Regions from separate parts of the Homo sapiens genome. Here region 2 is linked to region 1. Evidence: fine-mapped expression QTL. A gene starts in region 1. The other region holds a variant in brackets. All regions are shown on one strand. Distances are between the middles of the regions. Region 1 holds the start of PLSCR1 (phospholipid scramblase 1). Region 2 has its middle 20 kb from the start of PLSCR5-AS1.

Evidence for each region. PIP is the estimated chance that this variant, and not a neighbour inherited with it, causes the effect.
Region 2: its variant is the best candidate, but not a certain one, in a credible set for the expression of PLSCR1 in whole blood (TOPMed, PIP 0.52).

Annotation. Positions count from the first base shown.
Region 1 is chr3:146,542,438-146,547,824 of GRCh38, reverse strand. PLSCR1 (phospholipid scramblase 1) reads left to right here and starts at 3,218. Exons shown (of 9, transcript NM_021105.3): 1 at 3,218-3,358. RefSeq lists an enhancer at 2,889-3,368.
Region 2 is chr3:146,567,001-146,572,387 of GRCh38, reverse strand. It overlaps the pseudogene RNU6-428P. Among named protein-coding and RNA genes, the nearest start is that of PLSCR5-AS1, 20 kb to the left of the region's middle. The variant A/T (reference allele first, on the strand shown) is at 3,271.

The sequences.
Region 1 (5,387 bases):
AGGGGCAAATGACAAGTGACAATTAAGCTGTGTCTGGAGGCAGGCTTTATAGTGGAAAATTGATGTACTTCAATTGTACAGTTGCATCTGGTGGCAGGCTTTAAGTCAGAATCCAACACTTATTTTAGTCTGTGCATGGCCCACCCATTATTTTACCACTTCCATCTGCACCTCTTTTCCACACTGTGCACTTGTCTTAGTCACAGTTTTGCTAAGCCCACAAGCTAACCCTTGTGAAAAACAAGGGTTTTTGTTAAAAAAAAGTTTTTGTTAAAAACATCAAAGTGAGTGAAAAACAAACATCACTGGACAGCTTCTTTGAAAATGGGGAAAAACCCAAAGGTGAGATAACAGAAGACTCTAAGACTGCTAACAAAAAGAAAGCTGCACTTAAAGGAAAATGCCAAGAGTCCTACTTAAATTACAGGTTCATTGCAACAGGTGGTTCACATTCTCCAATCCTGCTTTGTATAATATGTGGTGACCAACTGCCCAATGAAGCCATGAAACCTGCAAAACTACTTTGCCACATGGAGACCAAGCACTCTGCATTAAAAGACAAGCCTTTGGAGTTTTTTGTTTTGTTTTGTTTAAAAAAAAAACAGAAACCATGAAACCATGAACACAAAGAACACATAGAAGCAATTATTGAAGGCCACCATGTCATCAAATGTGTCTGCACTGAGAGCATCATTCATAGTGGCTAACTGCATTGCTAAAGCTAAGAAGCCCTTTACTATTGGTGAAGAATTGATCCTGCCTGCTGCTAAGGACATTTGTTGGGAACTTTTAGGAGAGGCTGCAGTTCAAAAAATAGCACATATTCCTCTTCTGGCTAGCACCATAACTAGATGAATTGATGAAATAGCAGAGAATATCGAGGTACAATTGTTAGAGAGGATTAATGAGTCACCATTAATCCTCTCTAGCAATTGGTATGCAATCCAGGTTGATGAGTCTACTGATATTGACAACAAAGCAACAATGCTTTTTTGTGTGTGATATATTTTTCAGGAAGATGTGCACAAGGATATATTATGTGAATTTTTGTTGCCAATCAAAACCACAGCTGAAGAACTATTTGTCTTTGAATGATTACATATCAAGAAAACTGAATTGGTTATTTTGTGTAGGTATATGCATGGAAGGAGTGGCTGCCATGACTGGATGGCTTTCTGGTTTCACTACTCTGGTCAAAGAGACCAGAATGTGAGTCTATGCACTGTGTCATCCACAGAAAAATGCTGGCTAGCTGAAAAATGTTACCTGAACTTAACAATGTTTTGCAGGATGTGACAAAAATAATCAACCACATTAAAGTACATTTTCTTAACTCACATCTGTTTGTGCAGCTCTGTGAGGAGATGGACACTGGGCATGCATGTCTTCTCTTATACACAGAAATGAGATGGCTTTCTAAAAGTAGATCACTGGCTGAAATTTTTGAATTATGAGAGCTGCTCCAGAGATTTATTTTAGAAAATCAGTCACCATTGGCGGCACATTTCAGTGACACAGAAAGGGTTGCAAAACTTGCTTACTTGTGTGATGTATTCAACTCGATCTATGAACTCAACTTGTCGCTTCAGGAGAGAAGGACAACTGTGTTCAAGGAAGCAGATAAATTGGTTGCATTGAAAGCCAAACTGGAATTATGGGGGCAACGAATGAACATTGAGATTTTTGACATGTTTCAAACATTAGCAGAGATTTTGAAGAAGACTGAGCCAGCAGCTTCTTTCTCTCAGCTGATGCATGATCACCTATCTTAGCTTTCAAAAGAGTTCGAGCATTACTACCCAACCACAAAAGAACCCTGAACTGGGAATGAATGTATCCATGACCCATTTGTGAGTAAGTCAGGTGAATCGATTTTGTCCGTACTAGAAGAGGATCAATTGCTTGAGATCACAAATGATGGTGGCCTTAAAAGTATGTTTGAGACAGCTTCAAATCCCATGTTCTGGATTAAACTCAAGGTGGGATATCCTGAGATTGCCACAAAAGCACTGAAGAGTCTGCTTCCATTTCCAACATGCTATCTTTGTGAAGCAGGATTTTCTGCAGTGACAGCAACCAAAACAAGATTACGGAGTAGACTGGACATAAGCAACACACTTCTGGTGTCACTGTCTCCCACCGTTCCCAGATGGGACCTTCTAATTGCAGGAAAACAAGGTCAGGGCTCCCACTGATTCCACATTATGGTGAGTTGTATAATTATTTTATTATATATTACAATGTAATAATAATAGAAGTAAAGTGCGCAATACACGTAATGTGCTTGAATCATCCTGAAACCGTCTGCCACCCGGCCCTGGTCCATGGAAAAATCCTCTTCCGTGAAACTGGTCCCTGGTGCCAAAAAGGTTGGGGACCACTGGTTTATCCAGGGTCATCCAGGTTGGAGTGGGGTCAGGAGAAATGGGGAAATTTAGGTAAAAGTATACAAAGTTACAAACACGTAGGATGAACAAATGGGAAGACCTAATGTACAACATGAGGGCTATAGTTAATGATAGTGGTATTCAGGATTTATGCTAAATAAGTAGATTATAGCTGCTCTTGCCCCAAGGGGGGAAATGTGTAATTATAGGAGTTGATGGATATGTCATACAAATAACTTAAATACACAGAATAAAAACTATTTTAGTTTAAAAAGGAACAATATTTATAAAAAAATAAAGTGAGCTCGAAAACATTCAAATAACTGCTTAAAAATTAAAAAGTAATATCACATAATTTAATAGAAGGAAAGAAAGAGCAAGACAGCAAGAAAGAAAAGGCACCATAAAGAAAAACAATTTTGGCCCCTCCTCATTTGTAGTCTTAAGCTGCCTCTACTCCCTCGCCTTGAAAAGCCACGGGCTTCCGAGGGATGGAGGTCAAAGCCAGAGTAAAGAAAGTTCCCGGGGGAGGCCACTCCCCAGCTGATGACTTTCCAGTTCCAGTTAGTGTCGGAGTCCCAGTTCCTCTCCTTAACCACCGGACAAACGTCTCTGGAGTCTCTCCAATGAGCAAGAAAGCAAGTCGGGGGTAGGGGAGGGGCCTCACACCAGGGGGTGGGCGCAGTCCCTCCTCCAGCTCCTTCACCCTCCAGTAGTCTCGTGGGTCCCCGAGCGCCAGCGCGGGAACCGGGAAAAGGAAACCGTGTTGTGTACGTAAGATTCAGGAAACGAAACCAGGAGCCGCGGGTGTTGGCGCAAAGGTTACTCCCAGACCCTTTTCCGGCTGACTTCTGAGAAGGTTGCGCAGCAGCTGTGCCCGGCAGTCTAGAGGCGCAGAAGAGGAAGCCATCGCCTGGCCCCGGCTCTCTGGACCTTGTCTCGCTCGGGAGCGGAAACAGCGGCAGCCAGAGGTGCGCGGGCGGCTTTCTCTGCCGCCTCCTGGGGACTTGGGCGCGGGAACTGCGCGGAGCCTGCGCTGGGGCCAGGGCCGGGGTCAGGTGTGGAGGGCAACTTGTGGGGAACCGGCGCGAGGGCCCGCAGGTTGTGTTTGCTGCTCTGGGGGTGGAGGATGTGGGGTGAAGGTTGGGGCCAGAAATGCAAGAGGCCTCTGAAAGGGACCCTGGAAGTGGAGCAGGTACACGGCAAGGGGCCCCAGGCGGCCCAGCGGCACCCGGGCTCACCCCAGAACCATTCGAATGACAAGGGGTGCCCTGCCTGAAAACGCCTTGCGGGGCTCAGCTTCCCCTTAGCTACACTGCTTTACAGGTAGAGAGCGGCCCTGAATCCTGGGTAGAGTCTGGGCTCAGGAGCATGTGCCAGCGTAGTGGGGCTATTAGAAGGAATGGTTAATACAGCCTGCAAGCTGTCATTTATCAGTAAGTATTCAATGAAGTCCGCCGGAGCCCACATCTATGCTAGGCCCTCTACAATACCAGCTTAGGAAAGATAGTGGCGGTATCTAGCACGGTTCCTAAGACCATTAGCTCCAGTCAGGCTCCCCGACTTTAAATTCGGCCTCTACTGCTTCACGTCTGTGGACTGTCAGCCACTTTCTTCTTATATATGTTCTTTCCATTGCCTCATCTCTGAAATTGTGTAACTATTAAATGAGCTACAGAGTATTAATGTAAAATTCTTAGAGCAGTGCCTGGCGCTACAGAAAGTACTCAGTGAAAGTTAGCTCTTATTATTTTAAATATTTGACAAAGTTCCTGCTTCTCCAAGCTGATTCTCTGGTTCCCAGGTGGTTTCATTCATGCACTGTTATTCCTGGAAGTCTTGGCATGGCCACTTCCCAGTTCCAGGAACAGGCAGTCGTTGTTTTTTCTGGCTTATCACATTGAGATACATGGTTACTACAAGTGACACTTAAACGTGTCAGACAGTTTGGGGGCTCCCTTCTTGAACTTTTTCTAAGAGCAAACCTTTGTCTTAATGCCACCCTGTTTACAACAATAGTAGGGCTTTGAACAATGAGAAAATGCGGGGAAATGAAAAAGACATATAAAGGGAAAGAGTGGATTTATGCAATTGGATAGAAAAGTGGCATGTAAAATAGCTGGTTTATAGATCAAACTGCCTTTAGATCTGTAAAGGAGCTTAGAGTACATACAGGTGGAGAGACATCAGATGTGTGTGAGCAGACCCTTATGTACTTCTCCATCTTCATCTCTAAGAATGTCTCCCTCTTTTGCTCTGTAACCTCACTCGTCTTCCTTTACTTGAATGAGGGACGTTCCTCCAGCTCAGGAATTCTACCTATGGAGTTCCCTCTATCTATGATGCCCTCCAACACCCCACCCACCATACCTCCATAGACTAGTTGATTTGAGACTTCCTTCATCTCCTAGTCTGACTTTTCTTAAACCCCCTACCACCATCTAAGTTAGTGCCCCATAACCCTTTCTTATAGCAACATTAATTTTATTTATAGCACTTAGAGTATTTTTAATAATATATTTAATTCTTAATTGTCTGTCTCCCCTAGTGTCTAGGTATTGTGCTCTAGTGCCTGGTATAGTGCCTTGCATGCTCTATGCCTTCAATTAATTCCTTTAAAACCACACAAGCTTTATATTTAGTGAATATTTATATAGGAAGAATTTCTATGTGTATATATGTGTATCTGTGTATATACACACTGTATTGCACTGCCCTGAATAGTGCTAAATTAAAAAACCAAAACACTTTTTAATCAGAACTTAATAGTTGCACTCTTCAATTTTCCATATGTTCTTTTAAGAAGTGATTAGAAAAAAATGATGTCTCCATATGTTGTCTGCTGCTGTAAAAGAATACCTGAGACTTGGTAATTTATAAAGGACAGAAATTTATTTCTTACAGTTCTGGAGGCTAGGAAGTCCAACATAATCATGTGTTGCTTAAATACAGGAATACATTCTGAGAAATGCATCATGAGGCAATTTTGTGGTTGTGAGA
Region 2 (5,387 bases), 25 kb before region 1:
GCTTCTAACTTTCAATAAATTCTTCTATATGGGTTGCATGCAAAGCCAGATGTCATGGTTCCATATTAGATTTTAGAAAATATAATTTATCTATTAAAGTTAGCAGTTAAAATTTTAATTATGTAGAACCTAATTATAGAATTAGAAAATAATTTAGAACAGAATGTAGTCTGGATATTGACATATTGTATTTACATTAAAATTGTATCTGTCATTCTAAGGGAAGAAATTATTTCTTCTTGTGTGTTCACAACTGTCACTATCTTATTCCTAAGCCTGCTTATTCTCCCTGACACTAGCCTCTCCATCTTACAGTCCATTCTCCATATAATTGCTAGATTAATCTTTTTTTTTTCTTTTTTTTTGAGATGGAGTCTCCTGAGACACCAGGCTGGAGTGCAGTGGTGTGATTTCAGCTCCCTGCAACCTCCACCTCCTGGGTTCAAGTGATTCTCCTGCCTCAGCCTCCCAAGTTGCTGGGACTACAGTTTTGTTTTGTTGTTGTTGTTGTTGTTGTTTTGTGGGTATTTTTTTTTTTTTTTTGTATTTTAGTAGAGATGGGGTTTCACCATGTTGGCCAGGATGGTCTCCATCTCCTGACCTGATGACCCACCCTCCTAGGCCTCTCAAAGTGCTGGGATTACAGGCGTAAGCCACCGCGCCCGGCCTGGATTGATCTTTTAAAACCAAGTGTCTGAAAGTGCCTTTTAAAGTTCAAAATGGCGCACTGAAAATAACTTGTCTCTCCTCTCTCCTAAGTCCACAATACAATTATAGCAAATGCAAATGCTGATAGAAAAAACAACCTCTCAAATTTACCTCACAAATTTTCGTGTCATCCTTGTGCAGGGACCATGCTAATCTTCTCTGTATCGTTCCAATTTTGGTATATGTGCTGCCAAAGCAAGCACAGGATATTTTTAAAAAGATATTCATAAATTCTAGGCTGAAGTTCCAAGTCATATTGGAACACTGATAGATGGAGGAATATGTGAGCCTATCATTCAGATTAAATGTGCACATGTGAACAGTCTATGATGGAGAAAAGTCCTTATCCCAGGGAGCTACCTGGCTCAAAGACAGCAATACCAGGCAAGGTGGGAGTACGAAGAACAACTCAAAACAGAGTTAATTGAAAGTCTGTATAATGAAATATGCTAGTCAGGTGTCCCACACCAACCTCACTGCTAGTCTCTTCCTTATCTCAATGAACACTAAGCCTAAGCAGCCCAGCATTATACTTTCAGGAATCCAAATTAGTACTCTTATTGAATCTTAATTAATTGCACAGGGAGAACTAAGGTTTTGAAGTTTCTGGAATGGCTTCCCATGCCAAAGGATGGCACTCTCCTCATTTTAGCATCCAAAGAGCGATCTCCTCACCTGCTCACCCTAATTGTGATAAGCACTGTCTCTACCTTGGTTCCCAGTCCTAGTCCTACTAGTGGGAGAGACCTAGTAGAAAAATGGACATATACGACAGAGAAAAATAACAAGAGTCACCGGTCTTCCATTCTTAAATATAAGTGAACTAAGAACCACTACATATATGAAGCATAGAAAACCAAGACAACCAAAAAATAGGTGACCAATGAAGAAACAAATGTAAATCAAAAAACATAAAAAAATTTTAAAAACAAAATTCTACTGTATTTTGAGGAATTTGAAAAATTAATACATCCATTAAGGAAGGACAAGAGGGTCTGAAAAATAAATAAAAGGAAATGTAAATTACACATGCAATATAAACATATTACTACGTTCCTGGAATGGCTATGATTTAATATAATAATCCAAAGAAAATTTTCATTTTCTATTTGAATTAAGAGTTTTCACTCCCTTTCCAGGAAATATTTTAACATAAGTTCTAATAAGAAGCATAATCCACACATTTTAAATATTATGTCTTTTAATTCTCAAAAGAAGGTAAATATCAGCAATGAAGACATCACTAACCAAAACAAAGTAGTCAAAACATGTAGATTTCACATAAACAAATGTATAATCAGTTGCTGACTGTTTTGCTTACATATACTTAATAAATGCACCAGTCACTGTGCACTTTGGCACAAGAATTAGGAGCCAGATTTGTGTATTGGTAAAATAAAATAAAACAGAAGCTTAATTTTTTGTTTGATTTCATAACACTATAAAAGAAAGAAAAGAAAAATTGTAAATGTATAATCCACATGAATGATTCACAAACTGTCACAAGTAATTGACAAACTGCTAGCTGTTTTCTTAGATATTAGTATTACTTTTCTGAAACAAATAAAAATTCTATCAAATATATATATATTATAAAACATTTCCAGCTATAGGAAATTAATGTTATCTCCTTCTTACCCACAGTCTTTAATAACCACTATGAATGAACTATTCAAATTTTCCATGAGATGAATGTACAAAAACATTATTGTATTGCTTTGTATTATAAATAACATGGATTTTGCAAAAATAAATACCATAAGTAAAGTAGAATGGATTTTTTAAAACATGCATTCAATAATTATAAAAAGATTTACAGTGAGTCACTCTTAGAGTAAACTCTTTGGTATGACTTATGATTCTTTTTCATTGTAGAAGGTAAAACATATTTCAACTTTTGATATTCAACTTTTAATTCTATCCCTTTGTTCTCACAAAATAGGGTCCACCATGTGCATTTATGAATGCAACAGACGTTTATATAGGCACATCACTCACTGTATTTATGCCTGGTTGTGGCTTCCAGAGAATACCAAAATGTAAATATCTTTGCAAGATGGAATGTTTCCGTTATTCAAACTGCAAATTGAACAGCTGTGAGGGCTGAGGAATTATCAAAAATCACCACACAGGATGCAGATTTTAATTCCTGCCCTTCACACATTTATGCACAATTACAAGAACAAGAAAACAAAAACAAACCTGCACATGTATTAGCCTACAAGAGAGGGAGGCAGTGAAACCTCAATGTTGAAAAGCTGAAATACGAGTATAACACCTTTCAAATTCAATTCTGAAGCAAAAAGAATTACATCTTAATTTTAAATCTCAGCCTGACTAACTTTATTCAAATTTAACTATGCTTGAGGCACTCTGATTTTCCTGCATTCATTTATGCTTTTCCCTCTCCCTTAGTACATTTTTTTTCTATTTTTCTACCTGCCCAAATGCTCTTCATATTTAGTTTTTGTTTTTATTTTTGAGGCAGGGTCTCACTGTCACCCATGCTGGAGGGCAGTTGTGTGATTACAGCTTATTGCAGCCCTGAATTCTGGGCTTAAG[A/T]AATCTTCCCACCTCATCCTCCTTGAATAGCTGAGACCATAGACACATGCCAGTATACCCTGCTAATTTTTTTTTTTTTTTTTTTTTTTTTTTGTAGAAATGGGATCTCAGTATCTTGCTCAGGCTGGTCTCAAACTCCTGTCCTCAACCGATTCTCAGTAAGCCTCGCAAAGTGCTGAACAGGCATGAGCCACCATGCCTGATTTACTTTATCTTTTAATGTCAACACAGTTTCTGCCTCAAAATTGTTCTCTAATTTTTGTCCAGTGTGTGTTACTTTCTCCATTCACTTCATGCAAAAAAAAAAAGTAATGGTAAGTTTATTATGAAATTACCATATTCTACTGTGTATTACAGCTATTTACTTTCTGTCTCTGATGCACTTTCTTTATTAGACTGTGAGCTCGTTCTGGGCAGGATTTGACTCAGAACCATTTTTGTGTCTGTTCCCCATGGTGTCAAGAACACTGTGCTTTGGATATAATTAATTTCCATAAACATCAATTGTCTTATTGTATACCAGATGAAAAATTTAAGCAGATACTTGTAATATCAAAGACTTGACTAATATTCATCATTGAAATTTCACAATGGAGAGTATGTCAATCATCCATTACAACTTTCCATGTAAAATGAACAAACAAACAAACAGGAGTTTTATGTAACTACAAGCTCAGGCAACTGCCTAGAAAGCCAAACATTTACCGAGATAAATTGACAGAAATGTATGTCCATAACATAGGGGTAGCTATGGCACTGCATGTGTCAATAATTGAAATGGTTTGGCTGTATCCCCACCCAAATTTTACCTTGAATTGTAATAATTTTCATGTGTCAAGGGTGGGGCCAGGTGGAGATAATTGAAAAATGGGGTCAGTTTCCCTCATACTGTTCTTCTGGTAGTGAATAAGTCTCATGAAATTTGATGGTTTTATAAATAGAAGTACCCCTGCACAAGCTCTCTTTCTTGCCACCATGTAAGACGTCCCTTTGCTCTTCTTTAATCTTCTGCCATGATTGTGAGGCCTCCCCAGTCATGTGGAACAGTGAGTCCATTAAACCTCTTTCCTTTATAAATTTCCTTTATACCAGTCTAAGGTATGTCTTTATTAGCAGCATCAGAATAGACTGATAAGTAAATTGGTACAGGGTAGTGGGGTGCTGCTGTAAAAATACCCAAAAATGTGGAAGTGACTTTGGAACTGGTTAACAGGCAAGGATTGGAACAGTTTGGAGGACTCCAAAGAAGACACGAAAATGTGGGAAAGTTTGGAACCTCCTAGAGACTTGTTGAATGGCTTTGACCAAAATGATGATAGTGATATGGGCAATAAGGTCCAGGCTGATGTGGCCTCAGAAGGAAATGAGAAACTTGTTGGAACTGGAGCAAAGGTGACTCTCTATGTTTTAGCAAAGAGACAGGTGGCATCTTGCCCCCGCCCTAGAGATCTGTGGAACTTTGAACTTGAGAGAAATGATTTAGGCCATCTGGTAGAAGAAATTTCTAAGCAGCAAAGTGTTAAAGAGGTGACTTGCGTACTGTTAAAAGCATTTGGTTTTATGCACTCACAAAGATATGGTTTGGAATTGAAACTTATGTTTAAAAAAGAAGCAGATCATGAAAGTTCAGAACATTTGCAGCCTGACAATGTGATAGAAAACCCATTTTCTGAGGAGAAATTCAAGCCAGCTGCAGAAATTCTCATACATAACAAGCAGCCAAATGTTAATCACCAAGACAATGGGAAAAATGTCTACAGGGCAGTACAAAGGCCTTCACGGCAGCCCTTCCCATTACAAACTAGGAGACTTAGGATGAAGAAATGGTTTCCATAGGCCGGGCCAGGGCCTTGCTGCTTTATGCAGTCTCAGGACTTGGTTCCCTGCATCCCAGCTGTGGCTAAAAGGGGCCAACGTACAGCTCAGGCCGTTGCTTCAGAGGGTGCAAGCCCCAAGTCTTGGTGGCTTACACGCAGTGTTGGGCCTGCAGGTACATGGAAATCAAGAATTGAGGTTTGGGAACCTCCATTTAGATTTCAGAGGATGTATATAAATGCCTGGATGTTGAGGTGGAAGTCAGCTGCGAGAGTGGAGCCCTCACTGCTAGGGCAATGTGG